4 linked regions of the Homo sapiens genome follow. The protein of the gene in region 1 purifies or fractionates together with the protein of each later gene. This does not show direct contact. Each region holds a gene or a part of one and is shown in the gene's direction. Other genes may lie near its edges.

Region 1 (3,500 bases):
TCCTTTCTAATTTTCTTACTTGTTCTACTATACGGTGAGAAATACATATTGAAATTTGCAACTATCATTTTAGCTTTGTCTATTTCACCTTTCAGTCTCGTCCATTTTTGAAGCTTTGTTCTTAGGCATATATTCTTTGAGGGTTGTTATGTCCTTGTGGTGAATTGACTCTTTTATCACTGGAGTCCAAGTTTCTCCTTAACTCTGGTGCTATTTCTCATCCAGAAATCTACTTTGTTTGATAGCAGTATAGCCCACTCTCGCTTTCTTTGAGGAAATATTTGTATAGTATGTTTCTTTCCATCCTTCTACTTTTAATCCATCTGTCTTTATATTTAAGGTGAATTATTTATAAGTCATGTAGAGTTATGTGTTGCTTTTATATCCATTCTGGTAATTACTGTTTTTCAGTAGGAGTGATTAAAACATAGGTCAGCAAATGTTTGCCTAAAGGGCCAAATGATAAATATTTTAGGCTTTTCAGGCCATATGGTTTCGATTGCAACTACCCAACCATGACATAGTGTGAAAGCAGCCATAGAAAGTATATAAATGAATGGGCCTGGCTGTGTTCCAATAAGACTTTATTTACAGAAACGGGAGATTGGCCTGTGGGTTATGCCATGATTAGGCCGTTTGCATTTAATGTGATTACTGATATGACTAGTTTTTTCTTTTTCTTTTTTTTTCTTTTTTTGTTTTGTTGAGTTGGAGCTTTGCTCTGTCGCCCAGGCTGGAGTACAGTGGCGCGATCTTGGCTCATTGCACCCTCTGCCTCCTGGGTTCAAGTGATTCTTCTGCCTCAGCTTCCTGAGTAGCTGGGACTACAGGCACATGCCACCACGCCCAGCTAATTTTTTGTATTTTTTTTAGTAGAGATGGGGTTTCACTGTGTCAGCCAGGATGGTCTCGATCTCCTGACCTTGTGATCTGCCTACCTTGGCCTCCCAAAGTGCTGGGATTACAGAAGTGAGCCACTGCACCCGGCTGATATGGCTAGTTTTAAATTACATCTTGCTATTTTGTTTTCTGTTTGTGCCATCTATTCTTGGTTCCATTTTTTCTGCCTTCTTTTGAATTTATTGAATATTTTTTAGTATTCTCTTTTATTTCCTCCATTGGTTTGTTAGCTATACTTCTATTTTGTTTTTAGTTGTTACTGTAGGGTTTCCAATAGGCATCATTATCTTATTACATCTTACCTTCAAGTAACACACCACTTCATATGTAACGTATGAGTTTCTTAACAGTATACTTCAATTTTTCCTATTCCATCCTTTGTGCTGTATTGTCATGCATTTTTCTTCTATATTTGTGTACCTCACAATGCATTTTTATAATTTTTTCTTTAAACAATTGTCTTTTAAATAAATTTTTAAATGAGAAAAAAGTTTTATAGTATCTATTACACATTATTATTTCCAATACTCTTCATTCCTTTGGTGGATTTACTTGAGCAGACAGTTAATTGATATCGTTTTCCTTCAGCCTAAAGAACTTTCTTTAACTTTGTTTTGTTTTGTTTTAGAGTAGAGGTCTATTAGCAAGCATTCTTTCTGTCTGAAAATATCTGTACTTATTTTGATTTTGAGGAATATTTTCTTTACATATAAAATTCTGGGCTGACAGTTCTTTTCCACCTCAAGTTGTTATTGTTGTTGTTTTGAGACAGGGTCGTGCTCTGTCTCAGAACAACACTGTGAGTGTAGTGGCATGATCACAACTCACTGCAGCCTTGACCTCCTGGACTCAAGTAATTCTCATGCCTCAGCCTCCTGAGCAGCTGGGACTACAGGCACGTGCCACCATGCCTGGCTGATTTAAAAAAAAAAAAATTGTGGAGATGGGGTCTCGTCATGTTACCCACGCTGGTCTCAAACTCCTGGGCTCAGGCAATCCTCTCACCTCAGCCTCCCAAAGTGCTGGGATTACAGTTGTGAGCCACCACACTTGGCTTCAAGTTTTTAAAGATATTCGGTTGCTTTCTGGCTTGCCTTGTGTATGATGGGAAACCAGTGATTTCCTTCTGTTTGTCCCCGGTATGTAATATGTGTTTTTTTTCTCTAGTTGTTTTTAAGATTTTCTCTTTGTCACTCATTTTCAGCAATTCGATGATGTGTGATATTTGTGTTTATCTTACTTGGTATTCATTAACATTTTGTATCCCTGAGTTTATAATTTTCATTAAATTTGGAAACATTTCAGCCATTCTTTCTTCTAATGCTTTTCTTTTCTCCTTCAAGAATTCTAACGGCATGTATGTTCGATCGCTGATGCTGTACCATTCATCATTGAGGTTCCTCGTTTTTTAGTATTTTTCCCTCCCTGTATTTTATTTTCAATAGTTTCCATTATTATGTCTTCAAGTCGGCTGTTACTTTTTTTTTTAATGCTAATCTGTTAAACTTATTGATTGGATGTTTCTTTTCAGATACTGTGTTTTTTATTTGGCATCATAATTTTGTTTCTTTCATTTCATTTTATTCCTGTTTCTCTTTAAGTCCTTGATATAAATCATCATATTTATAAGCAGTGATTTAAATTTCTTATCAGCTAATGCAATCAACTGTCCTTTCTGAGTCTTGCCCTTGACCGATCTTTTTCTTAGTATGTGTCACATTTCTCTGCCTCTGCGCATGGAATAATTTTTTATTGAATACACACACAGTGTATGTGTTGACGGCTCTTGTGAGTCCTCGGGTCCTGTCTTCTTAGTTTAAAAGAATTTCAACAAAAGACACATAGCAAAGGAGATGTAGCATAAAGTAATTTATTGAGAAAGAAAAAGACTATTTTGAAAGTTAGGTGCAGAATAGACAGTACACCCTGAGAGAGGAAGATATCAAGGCAGGCTGCTCGTGAAGATTGGACAACAAAGACTGGTACCAGGGATGCTCCCTTTAATGGAGACTTCCATGGTTACTCATAAGCGGGTGGGAAGAGGTGTTGCTAGTAAGCATGTTCTGGGCGATCCTCTTGGTGCACTTACTCAGTAGCTGTACATGATTGTCCATACATCTCATGTCTCATTAGCATCTTAAATCTCCACCCAGGGATCTGTTTTTTATTTTTATTTTTTGTGTGTTCTAATAAAACTTTATTTACAAAAACAGCAGTGGCCTCACGCTGCAGTTTACCAACCTCTGCCCTTGAGGAAATTCTAAACGATCCTTCTATTCTCCTTGTAGAAGATGATATTACACAATTTTTGGCATATGAAGAAGCAATCGATAAATACAAACACAAAAATATGTAGGAAAATCATATTATCTGTGCCAAACAGAAAATTGCAGAAATATTTCCTTTTTGCAGATTTTTGTGAATTTTTCCAGCTTTTTAACACTTGCAACATGCCATTTTTTAGTATTTGAAAGAGCTGTCTCTTTAATATCTAAATTTTCTTTTCTTTTTTTTAATTTTTTTATTATTGTACTTTAAGTTTTAGGGTACATGTACACAACGTGCAACTTTGTTACATATGTATACATGTGCCATTTTGG
Region 2 (3,500 bases), on another chromosome or scaffold:
TAGTAATATATAACTTTTAAAAACTAGAGCATGGTATAGCTTTATGAATAATCAGATTTGGATCACAAAGTTATGGAGCCGTTTACTTCATGAGTCCAAGCAGAGAGTAGCAGGGAAATCTCTATTTTTAATACAATATATGTTACAAAATGTTTCCAAGTGCGTGGTTAGGTGGATATATTCTTAGAGAAGAAATCATATGAAATATTAAAGCAGGTTATGATTCTGTTTGGTCTTTTCAATCCTGGGTGGTTAAAACTTAAGAAATGATTCATGTCTCTAATAAGGTGAAGGGGATGTTATATTACTTAAAAGAGCACTGCGTATCCAAAGGAAATGGAAGAGTTGTTTTTTCTTCTCTTAAGGAATTTGTCCAAGTTATTACAAATCTTGCATCAAGTACAGTCACAAGTATACTAACCACTATACCATTTAAGTTGGAGATTACTTGAAAAGCATGACATTTTTCTTACCTTTGAGTAGTCCGGTTTGCTTTGTACTGTTAAATCTTAGATAAATGGTGAAATATGGATGGTTTTTATGAATTTTTTCTTGTTCAGATGAGAGATCTCCAGCTGCTCAGTATGTAGACCTATTGCTGAACCCAGAGCGTTACACTGGCTATAAAGGGACCTCTGCATGGAGAGTGTGGAACAGCATCTATGAAGAGAACTGTTTCAAGTAACTGGAGGGGGTGGGGGAAGAAGGAACGACTGATAGAGGGTCGGGAGAGGCCGGGTGCTGTGGCTCACGCCTGTAATCCCAGCACTTTGGGAGGCCAAGGTGGGTGGATCATCTGAGGTCAGGAGTTCAAGACCAGCCTGGCCAACATGGTGAAACCCCGTGTCAACTAAAAATACAAAAAAATTAGCCGGGCATGATGGCAGGTGCCTGTAATCCCAGCTACTTGGGAGGCTGAGGCAGGAGAATCACTTGAACCCGGGAGGCAGAGGTTACAATGAGCAGAGATTGCGCCACTGTACTCCAGCCTGGGTGACTAAGTGAAACTCTGTCTCAAAAAAAAAAGAGGGTGGGGAGGGGAGTATTTGTTTCTATTGGAATAAAATTATACACTATAAAAGTTAAAACATTCTATGTTTGGGTATTATGCTTTCTTTTTCAGGCCTCGATCTGTTTATCGTCCTTTAAATCCTCTGGCGCCTAGCCGAGGTAGGTTTTTCATATGTACATTTTCATGCTTTTCATTGTTTATAAAATGTCTTTATAACTAAACTTCATATTGAAAAAACTTTCATTTTTATATTTTGTTTAATTTGAATGATGAACAAAAAGTGTAAGATTAGTTCATAGTCGAGTCTCGAGATCTCTAGGCATGTTGTTTTACATAATTACTGTCATTTATTGAATGCCTGCTCTGTGCCAGACCCTAAACTAGGAAGTTTATGTAAAATAATTAAAATATGTGAGTAATCAATATATATCAAAGATTTCCTGGGGACTTATTAAAAAATCTGGTTGCTCAGGCCCTACGCTATATTAATTAAGTCAGAATCCTTGGAATGAGAACACCAGGCATTGTTATTTTTTAAACTCTCCACATGATTCCAGTATGCAACCAAGTTTGACAGCCAGTGTCTCGTAACAGTGCTTCTAGACTTCAGTGTGCATACACATCACCCAGGAGCCTTGGTAACATACAGCTTCTGATTCTGTATTTCTTGGGAGAGGTCCAAACACACTCCTAGGTGCTGCCTCAGGTGCCGACTCATGTACCACACTTTCAGTAGGAAAAATGTACAACAATTTTAGAAACTTTAGCAGTGCTCTATATCTGTACTGTCCAATAAAGTAACCAGTTTCCACATGGGACTGTGGAACACATGAAATTTGGCTAGTGTGAAACTGAATTTTAAATTGTATTTAATCTTAGTTTATTTAGATGTAAAAACTATATTGTTAAACAGAACCTTATTGTTTTGGTAAGACTACTATAACCTATGCGTCATGTAACATATTTTTGTTGTAGTGTGTGTATACTTTTGAATTTTAAAAATGTGGCTATTAGAAACATTTTAAGTTAACACTCGTGTGTGGCGTTATATTTCAATGGAACAGCATTACTGTCATCAGTGGGATACATCCTCAGTCTGTTCTCAGTGAGGAACCAAACCCTGGGAGCAACTCTGTCATTGACCTGCCATTCCAGTGTTTTCTTTAGACGGGGAGTGTTTTAAGAAATTTGATTTCCTGATCTAAATTTGTATCTTTAGACCTTTCTGAGAACCAAATAGACTTGGAAGGGTTGACTGCATAGACTGCTTTTTCATGCTCACTCTGTCACAATGTGGCAAATACTTGTTTTCCCCAAATTCACATTGAAACTGCCTGGAGAAGGAAGTTGGTCCTGAAAAAGACGTGCCTGGCTTCTTATCCTTTGTCTCTTTTACTACTTTTGCCTCACAACTTTTCTATTTTCAACTTAAAGGTTTTAATTAAACAAAATTTTATAAAAATTGAAGCAATATAGTAGTTATATAAAGTGAAAAGGGAAAGCTCTTCTATTCCATAGTACAGAGTTTGAAAGGTGTTCTTCCAGACCTTTTCTACAGCCACTTAATACTTTTAAAGCAGAAAATACAATTTTTTCACTTAAGAAAACCATCAAGTCCTAAGAAACACTTCATTTCCATGTTAGTGATATATCAGAGACATAACACTGCTGAAAAGATGAGGAAAAGGAAACTACTACATAGAAAAAGAGGAAGGGAAGAGGAGAAAAGAAGAAAAATGAAATATGAAAGAAGACAAGACTAGGTAAAGAGAATGGTTCCTAGCTGTTATAGGAGTACTCTATGAAGTAATTAATAGCTCTTGCTGTTGCTATTTACCTGCTATCTCCATTGAAATTGGTTGATTAATAGTTCTTTAATCTTCTTAACTCTTTCTTCCACATTTCTGAGTCATAACCCCTAGGCTTATACAACTATTTTCTAACAGGTTTTGAGCAATAGGAACTTTTGTCCAAAAATGAAATCTTATTTCAGAACCTACATAATAAAGCTGATAGGCAGAGCTGCTGTGTTGCCCTAGAGCCCAACCTCTGGCCTCTTCCTCACCTCTAGGCCTCCTGGAAGCAGCACCTTGCCCAAGGGTTTCACTGATTACAGTTTGGGATATACTCTTACTAAGGCCTGTCTCTGCTGAGGAGCAGTAATTTAAAAGAGAAAAATATTCCAGGTTGGAAACAGTAATGTTCAGAGAGGATTGTGTGCATAATGATTAAAGGAGCAACTTTATGTAGTAATTAATTAATTATTGAAAATAGTGGTCTTTATGACTTTTTAGTTGCTTTCTGATGTTATTGTATTTTAAAATGTGCAAATCTTTTTTTTTTTTTCTTGAGACAGAGTCGCACTCTGTCACTCAGGCTGGAGTGCAGTGGTGTGATCTCGGCTCACTGCAACCTCCGCCTCCTGGGTTCAAGCAGTTCTCTGCCTCAGCCTCCTGAGCAGCTGGGATGACAAGGTGCCGGTCACCAC
Region 3 (3,500 bases), on another chromosome or scaffold:
GCTTTGTCCAGACACAGAGACAAGGCTAAATGCTGCTTATTCATTTGGAACAACCTACCAACAAAATGTAAGTTTGAACGATATTAGTCTATATTTTAGCTTTATTTTTCAAAATATCATGTCAGCAGTAATTGGAATAATACTTAAATTTTTGAGATTGGAAATTTTTTATTCTTGGTTTTTTTTTTTTTTTTTTTGAGATGGAGTTTTGCTCTTGTTGCCCAGGCTGGAGTGCAGTGGTGCAATCTCAGTTCACCACAACCTCCGCCTCCCAGGTTCAAGTGATTCTCCTGCCTCAGCCTCCCGAGTAGCTGGAATTACAGACATGTGCCACCACGCCCAGCTAATTTTTTGTATTTTTAGTAAAGACAGGGTTTCTCCATGTTGATCAGGCTGATCTTGAACTCCCCACCTCAGATGATCTGCCCTCCTCAGCCTCCCGAAGTGCTGAGATTACAGGCATGAGCCACCGTGCCTGGCCGGAAATGTTTTTAATAGTGAAGAATAATTTCACTATTTAATATAATTTTTTATTACCTGGGTACATAAAAGCTTAATTTAAGTGGCATAAACAGAGCACCTTGTTATCTATAGAGTTTTTTGTTTTTTGAGACAGAGTCTCGCTCTGTTGCCCAGGCTGGAGTGCAGTGGTGCAATCTCAGCTCACTGCAATCTCTTGCCTCCTGGGTTCAAGCAATTCTCGTGCCTCAACCACCTGAGTAGCTGGGACAACAGGCATGTACCACCACACCCAGCTAATTCTTGTGTTTTGCATAGAGATGGGGTTTTGCTGTGTTGACCACGCTTGTCTCAAACTCCTGACCTCAACTGATCCACCAGCCTTGGCCTCCCAAAGTGCTGGGATTACAGGTGTGAGCCACCTCGTCCGGCCTAGAGTCTTAAACATCATATAATATTACATCTTCATAATAAATTGTTTATCTGCTTCTAGGCTTATAGGTCTTAAAAAGTAATGCTTACTTCTGAGCATTTTGAAATAAAGTAAAAATACTACTTTTTTTAAATGACTAATAAAAAGTTACTCCCTTCTTCTACCCGCTCATAACAAATAAAAATAATTCCTTCATCTTCTTCCATTCTTTTCTTTCTCCTTCCTTCTCTGACTTTCCTTACTTTGATACCTATTTTGAAATTACATTATTTTACTAAGGAATATTATGAGCCATTCAATACTTGAAAAACATGCATGTATTAGTCCGTTCTCACGCTGCTAATAAAAACACATCCGAGACTGGGTAATTTACAAAGGAAATAGGTTTAATTGACTCACAGTTCACTATGGCTGAGGAGGCCTCAGGAAACTTACAATCATGGTGGAAGGGAAGCAAACATGTCCTTTTTCACGTGGTGACAGGAAGAGAAGTACTGAGCAAAAGGGGGAGAAGCCCCTCATAAAACCATCAATCTCATGAGAACTCACTCACTATCATGAGAACAGCATGAGGGTAACTGCCCCTATGATTCAATTACCTCCCTCCGGGTCCTTCCCATGACACATGGGGATTATGGGAACTACAGTTCAAGATGAGATTTGGGTGGGGACACAGCCAAACCATATCAATTCATTAGTCTGTAAAAGTACATCTTGATAAAGTTCCACGCACAACCATAGAACAAAACCATAACAAAAAATACCATTATGGAAAGTAGATTGGAAGAATCTACTAACAGTGGTTACCTCTGGATAGTGGGGTTAGAAATTATTTTTTTCTTTTTTATAATTTCCAAATTTTCTACCATGAACATGAATTTACTTCTTTTGTCAGAAATGATTTACACGTTGTTGTTGCTGTTGTTGTTAAAATAAATGTTATTGTGCTTCTAACATAGGCCAGAAAGATCAACACTTATGTAATGCCTATCTGTGTGCTCAGCATTTTATCGTTATTATCCCATTTGATTCATAAAATAACTATATGAGATACATAGTATCTGTGCTTCACAGATGAGGAAATTATGCCGTGTAATTAGGTAATTTACTCAAAGACTTGTGTCACATAAACTGTGGAGCCAATGTTCTATCATCAGGTTTAAAAAGCATTTTTATTTCTTTGAACCTGGCTAACTCTCAAGTCCTTCATAGACTAGTGGGCAAAACAGTTATATAGACAAAGAATTGCAAAGAATGTGATAAGTGTCATTCTATAGGTATGTACAAGGTACTGATTCCTGGGGAAGTATAGAAAGGCTTCACAAAGTAAGTGATACTTGGATTTGTATAATGAATATGAGTTTTCCAGAAGAACACAGTGGGGAAGGAAATATCAGACAGAAATCACATTTGTAATGACAGAGAGACATACAGTAGTATGGCATATTTAGAAACTACAAGTAGATTAGTATGAATGGACCACCATAGACTGATAGGGAGTAATGAGAGATAAGCCTGGCTTGGTTAATGGAAGCCAGATCATATACATCATTGTACAGCAGGAGAAAAAATTGGGAATTTATCCCGTAGGACAGTAGTTTTAAACCTTTTCACTGATGTACCCTTAATATTGAGAATGAAGGTATACCTCCTTCATCTGAGTTGAAGCTCAAGAAGTTCTCAAAATTCTCAAAGCAGTACTTTACTGTTAGTGGTTTTGGTCCTTATAAAATAATCATAGTATTCATGTTTTGGAAGACAAATGAAAATGCATATAAACAAGGTAGTATAAAGACATTTTGCAAAACTAGAAAAACACTCTGAAGATAATAAATATGCTTGCTAATTTTCAATTGTGATCTTTTATTTTATTTTTTACTTTTTAGTACTTTAAGTTGCTGTTTTATGTGCTTTTATTTTTAATTTTACTTTTCAGTGTGAGATTCCTATCTCTAAGATCTTAATTGACTTTCCCACTCCTATATTTTATGATGTGTACCTTGAATATACTGATGAAAATCAACATCAATATATTTTGGCTGTGCCTGTGTTAAACCTAAATCTTCAACATAATAAGATATTTGTGAACCAAGGTAAGACATCCATACATACCACTCTTTTCCCTGAGCAGAAATCAACAAATAAGTTAACCTACATGATAATTTAATAAACCACTGATTATAAGAAAGGTCATGAATTCTCTCTTATGTGGTTCTATACAGTGTGCCAAAAAATGAAACAATAAATTGCTGGTGGACTTAGAAACTGTTGCTAATTTTATTGCCAGACATATTGTTAAGAAATTATACTGTTGCTGAGGGTATATCCTGAGAAACATTAGTAGAACCGTAAATTGGGGCTTTTTCGTCAAGCTGTCCCGAATATGCTTTTTTGGACAAATTAGTTTCTTTTGTTGTTATTCATGTTATAAAATTCTGCTTTTTCAGGTAATTTGCAGGGGAAAGCCTTCCAAATTTATGAAAAGTTCAATCAGAAGACATTCAAGTCCAAGGCACGGTGGCTCACGCCTATAATCGCAGCACTTTGGGAGGCCAAGACGAGAGAATTGCTTGAGCCTAGAAATTGAAGACCAACCTAGGCAACATAA
Region 4 (3,500 bases), on another chromosome or scaffold:
CCTGCCTGGGCTTCCCAAAGTGCTGGGATTACAGGCGTGAGCTACTGTGCCCCGCCTAGGTTAGCTTTTTAATTGGCACTGTGTGCCTGCCCCTGAGGATAATTATAATAAAGGTAACAAATATTGGCCGGGTGCAGTGGCTCACGCCTGTAATCCCAGCACTTTGGATGGCCTAGGGTGGGTGGATCACTTCAGGCCAGGAGTTCGAGACCATCCTGGCCAACATGGCGAAACTCCGTCTCTACTAAAAATACAAAAATTAGCTGGATGTGGTGGTGCACACCTGTATTCCCAGCTACTCAGGAGGCTGAGGCAGGAGAATTGCTCAAACCTGGGAGACAGAGGTTGTAATGAGCCAAGATCGCACCATTGCACTCCAGCCTCGGTGACAGAGCAGGACTCCATCTCAAAAAAAAAAAAAAGGTAACAAATATTGAAGCCGGGGGAAGGCCACTCTGGCTGCCAGGTGAAAGACATCGTGGAGAGGAGCCCCAGAGGGTGTGAGGTGAAGTGGAGGGGTGTGGGGAAAAGGCGATGGCCCTTGGATCCAGGTGGGGTGGTGGGGATCAGGAGAGGTGGGGGGATTTAGGAGACAGAGCAGTGGGGCTCACTGGCACCCTGTGGCTGTGATGGGTAGGAGTTTGTCTGCTCCTGCCTCACCTTGATGCCCTGAGGGCAGGGACTCAGTCTTGCTCACTGCCGTAACCCTGGCTCCCAGCGGGTGCCCTGGACAGGTATATTGAATGAATGAACCATTTCAGTAGAAAGACCCCTTAGATATTGTGTGAGCCAAGCCCTTTCTCCCTCTGGTCCCACAGGTGGGGAAACTGAGTCCCAGAGAAGACTGACATGTTGGGTCACTGGCAGTGCTGGGCCTAGGACCTTTCAGCTGGGTTCTGAGAGCCCCACCCTCCACTGCAGCTCTCACTCAGCCTGTCTCTGCAGGGGTCTCCGTCCACGTGTGCAATGAGCACCGTTATGGGTACATGAATGTGCCGGTGAAATCCCACCAGGGGCTGGAAGACGAGAGGGTCAACTTCATCCACCTGATCTTAGAAGCACTAGGTGAGGGCTGGGGAACTGTTCCACCCACCTGCTGCCGGGGCTCCCTGCCTCCCCACGGTGCCCCTTTCCCTAGGCCCTGGACGGAGCGGGCATTGGCCTTGGGGTTCCAGCTTTGTCCCTAACTCGTTCCATGACTCTGAGAAAGTCCCTTTCCCTGTTGGGCCTTAGTCTAGCATCCCTACAATGGGGGCAGGTGGATCCTGTGATCTCTGAGGTCCCGTCCTGTGGGGTGTTCTGCCAAAGGGGGCAGGAATGAGGCTGGGGGCTAGGACTTCAGGGTGACTGCTAACAGGAGTCAGTAGGGACTCGTGCTTGGGGTGTGCTTCCCTTTGCAGTGGACGGCCCCCGCATGCAGGCCTCAGCTCATGTGACTCGGCCCTCTAAGAGGCCCAGCAAGATAGGGTTTGACGAGGTAAGTCCCCCAGCCTGTGGGCTCGCTGTTAGGAGGTGGATGGGCCCTCCTCTTCCGCTCCCTTGCACTTACCGCCCACCCCCCTGCCTCCTCCAGGTCTTTGTCATCAGCCTGGCTCGCAGGCCTGACCGTCGGGAACGCATGCTCGCCTCGCTCTGGGAGATGGAGATCTCTGGGAGGGTGGTGGACGCTGTGGATGGCTGGTGAGCCTGCCTGGTGGGGGGGGCCCTGTGCGCTTGGGGAAGCAGTGTGGTCCATCTCCTAGCCCGCTAGGACTGGGAAAAGCAGACAGGTTGAATGAGTTTCCTGTCCCATGTAGTATCCAAATAGGGTCTGAGTAATATCCTCTCAGGGAGTTCCGGAGCAGACACACGTGGGAGAAGATGCCCTCCTGCTGCTCACCAGAGGAGGAGAGCACAGTGGCTGAGGCTCCAGGGCCTGGGTTCCAGCTCTACCAGTTACTGAATGTGTGACCTCCAGCCAGCTACCCCCATCTCTCAGCCCGTTTGTATAAACAGCAGATAACTGTGCCCTTCTCTTAGGGTTTTGTGAGTTTAGTGAAGTTAGCCAGGGCCGGGCACATAGTTTCCAAAGGCTTAGGTGTCTCCCTTATTATTACTCTCCATCCTGGACTTGAGCTACTGATGCGTGGGGATTAGGAAAGGCCAGCCATGTTCCCCCGAGGAACCCAGAGGCTAGGCTTCTCCAGCCACCAGGGGTCCTATGGCCCCATATGTCGGCTGCCATTTGCTTCAAGTACTCAGCTCTTTTTATTTTTTTTTTAGAGACAGCGTCTCCGTCTGTTGCCCTCCGTCTGTTGCCCAGGCTGGAGTGCGGTGCCACAAACATGGCTCACTGCTGCCTTAAACTCCTGGGCTCAAGTAATCCTCCCACCTCAGCCTTCTGAGTAACTGGGACTATAGGTGTGCACTATCACATCCAGCTAATTAAAAAGAATTTTTTTTTTTTTTTGAGGCAGAGTCTCGCTCTGTCGCCCAGGCCTGGAGTGCAGTGGCGCAATCTTGGCTCACTGCAACATCCGCCTCCCAGGTTTTAAGTGATTCTCCTCCCTCACCTCCCAAGTAGCTGTGATTACAGGCTTGCATCACCACACCCGGATTAAAAAAAATGTTTTGTTTTGTTTTTTTTTCATAGAGATAGGGTCTCACTCTGTTGCCTAGGCTGGTCTTGAACTCCTGGCCTCAAGTGACCGTCCTGCCTCAGCCTCCTGAATAACGGACTACAGGCATGCACCACCATGTCCACCTAATGAAAAAAAATTTTTGACTGGGCACGGTGGCTCATGCCTGTAATCCCAGCACTCTGGGAGGTTATGGATGGATCACCTGAGGTCAGGAGTTCGAGACCAGCCTGGCCAACCAACATGGTGAAACCCCCTCTCTACTAAAAGTACAAAAATTAGCCAGGTGTGGTAGTGGGTGCCTGTAATCTCAGCTACTTGGGAGGCTGAGTCAGGAGAACTGCTGGAACCCAGGAGGCAGAGGTTGCAGTGAGCCGAGATTGTGCCATTGCACTCCAGCCTGGGCCGACAACAGTGAGACTCTGTCTCAAAAAAAATTTTTTTTTTGAGAGATGGGGTTTTTCTCTGTTGCCAAGGCTGGTCTTGAACTCCTGGCCTCAAGCAATCCTCCCACCTTGGCCTCCCAAAGCACTGGGATTACAGGTGTGAGACACCACATCCCCCGAGGTCTCTTGACCATAGGCTATCCATCCTTTGCTTGGGCCTCTGCCCAAGAAGTATCTATCATGTTCCCACATTCTTCCTAGAGTGCCTCCCCCTCAGGCAGCCCCCTACCATCCCACCCTTTCCTCAAGGGTCACCCCTGTCTTATCATATTAGGACATGTCCTAATAGTTATCCTCTCAGAACTCCCGAGGTGGCTGGGCGTGGTGGCTCATGCCTGTAATCCCAGCACTTTGGGAGGCTGAGGTGGGTGGATCACCTGAGGTCAGGAGTTCGAGACCAGCCTGGCCAACATGGTGAAACCCCATCTCTACTAAA

Evidence for each region. Proteins that work in one complex are often made in the same cells at the same time.
Region 2: the proteins of LYZL2 (region 1) and ERO1B purify together in Homo sapiens (affinity purification with mass spectrometry; 2 studies listed by BioGRID and IntAct, with this or other methods). This does not show direct contact.
Region 3: the proteins of LYZL2 (region 1) and TMEM67 purify together in Homo sapiens (affinity purification with mass spectrometry; 2 studies listed by BioGRID and IntAct, with this or other methods). This does not show direct contact.
Region 4: the proteins of LYZL2 (region 1) and CERCAM purify together in Homo sapiens (affinity purification with mass spectrometry; 2 studies listed by BioGRID and IntAct, with this or other methods). This does not show direct contact.

The regions. Positions count from the first base shown.
Region 1 is NC_000010.11:30,619,754-30,623,253, reverse strand, and holds part of LYZL2 (lysozyme-like protein 2 precursor), read left to right. Parts: intron 1-3,500.
Region 2 is NC_000001.11:236,233,459-236,236,958, reverse strand, and holds part of ERO1B (ERO1-like protein beta precursor), read left to right. Parts: intron 1-560; coding exon 561-681; intron 682-1,123; coding exon 1,124-1,170; intron 1,171-3,500.
Region 3 is NC_000008.11:93,782,394-93,785,893, forward strand, and holds part of TMEM67 (meckelin isoform 1 precursor), read left to right. Parts: intron 1-1; coding exon 2-67; intron 68-2,828; coding exon 2,829-2,985; intron 2,986-3,500. UniProt on the Homo sapiens protein: Required for ciliary structure and function. Part of the tectonic-like complex which is required for tissue-specific ciliogenesis and may regulate ciliary membrane composition.
Region 4 is NC_000009.12:128,427,357-128,430,856, forward strand, and holds part of CERCAM (inactive glycosyltransferase 25 family member 3 isoform a precursor), read left to right. Parts: intron 1-945; coding exon 946-1,065; intron 1,066-1,400; coding exon 1,401-1,477; intron 1,478-1,573; coding exon 1,574-1,680; intron 1,681-3,500. UniProt on the Homo sapiens protein: Probable cell adhesion protein involved in leukocyte transmigration across the blood-brain barrier. Does not express any beta-galactosyltransferase activity in vitro.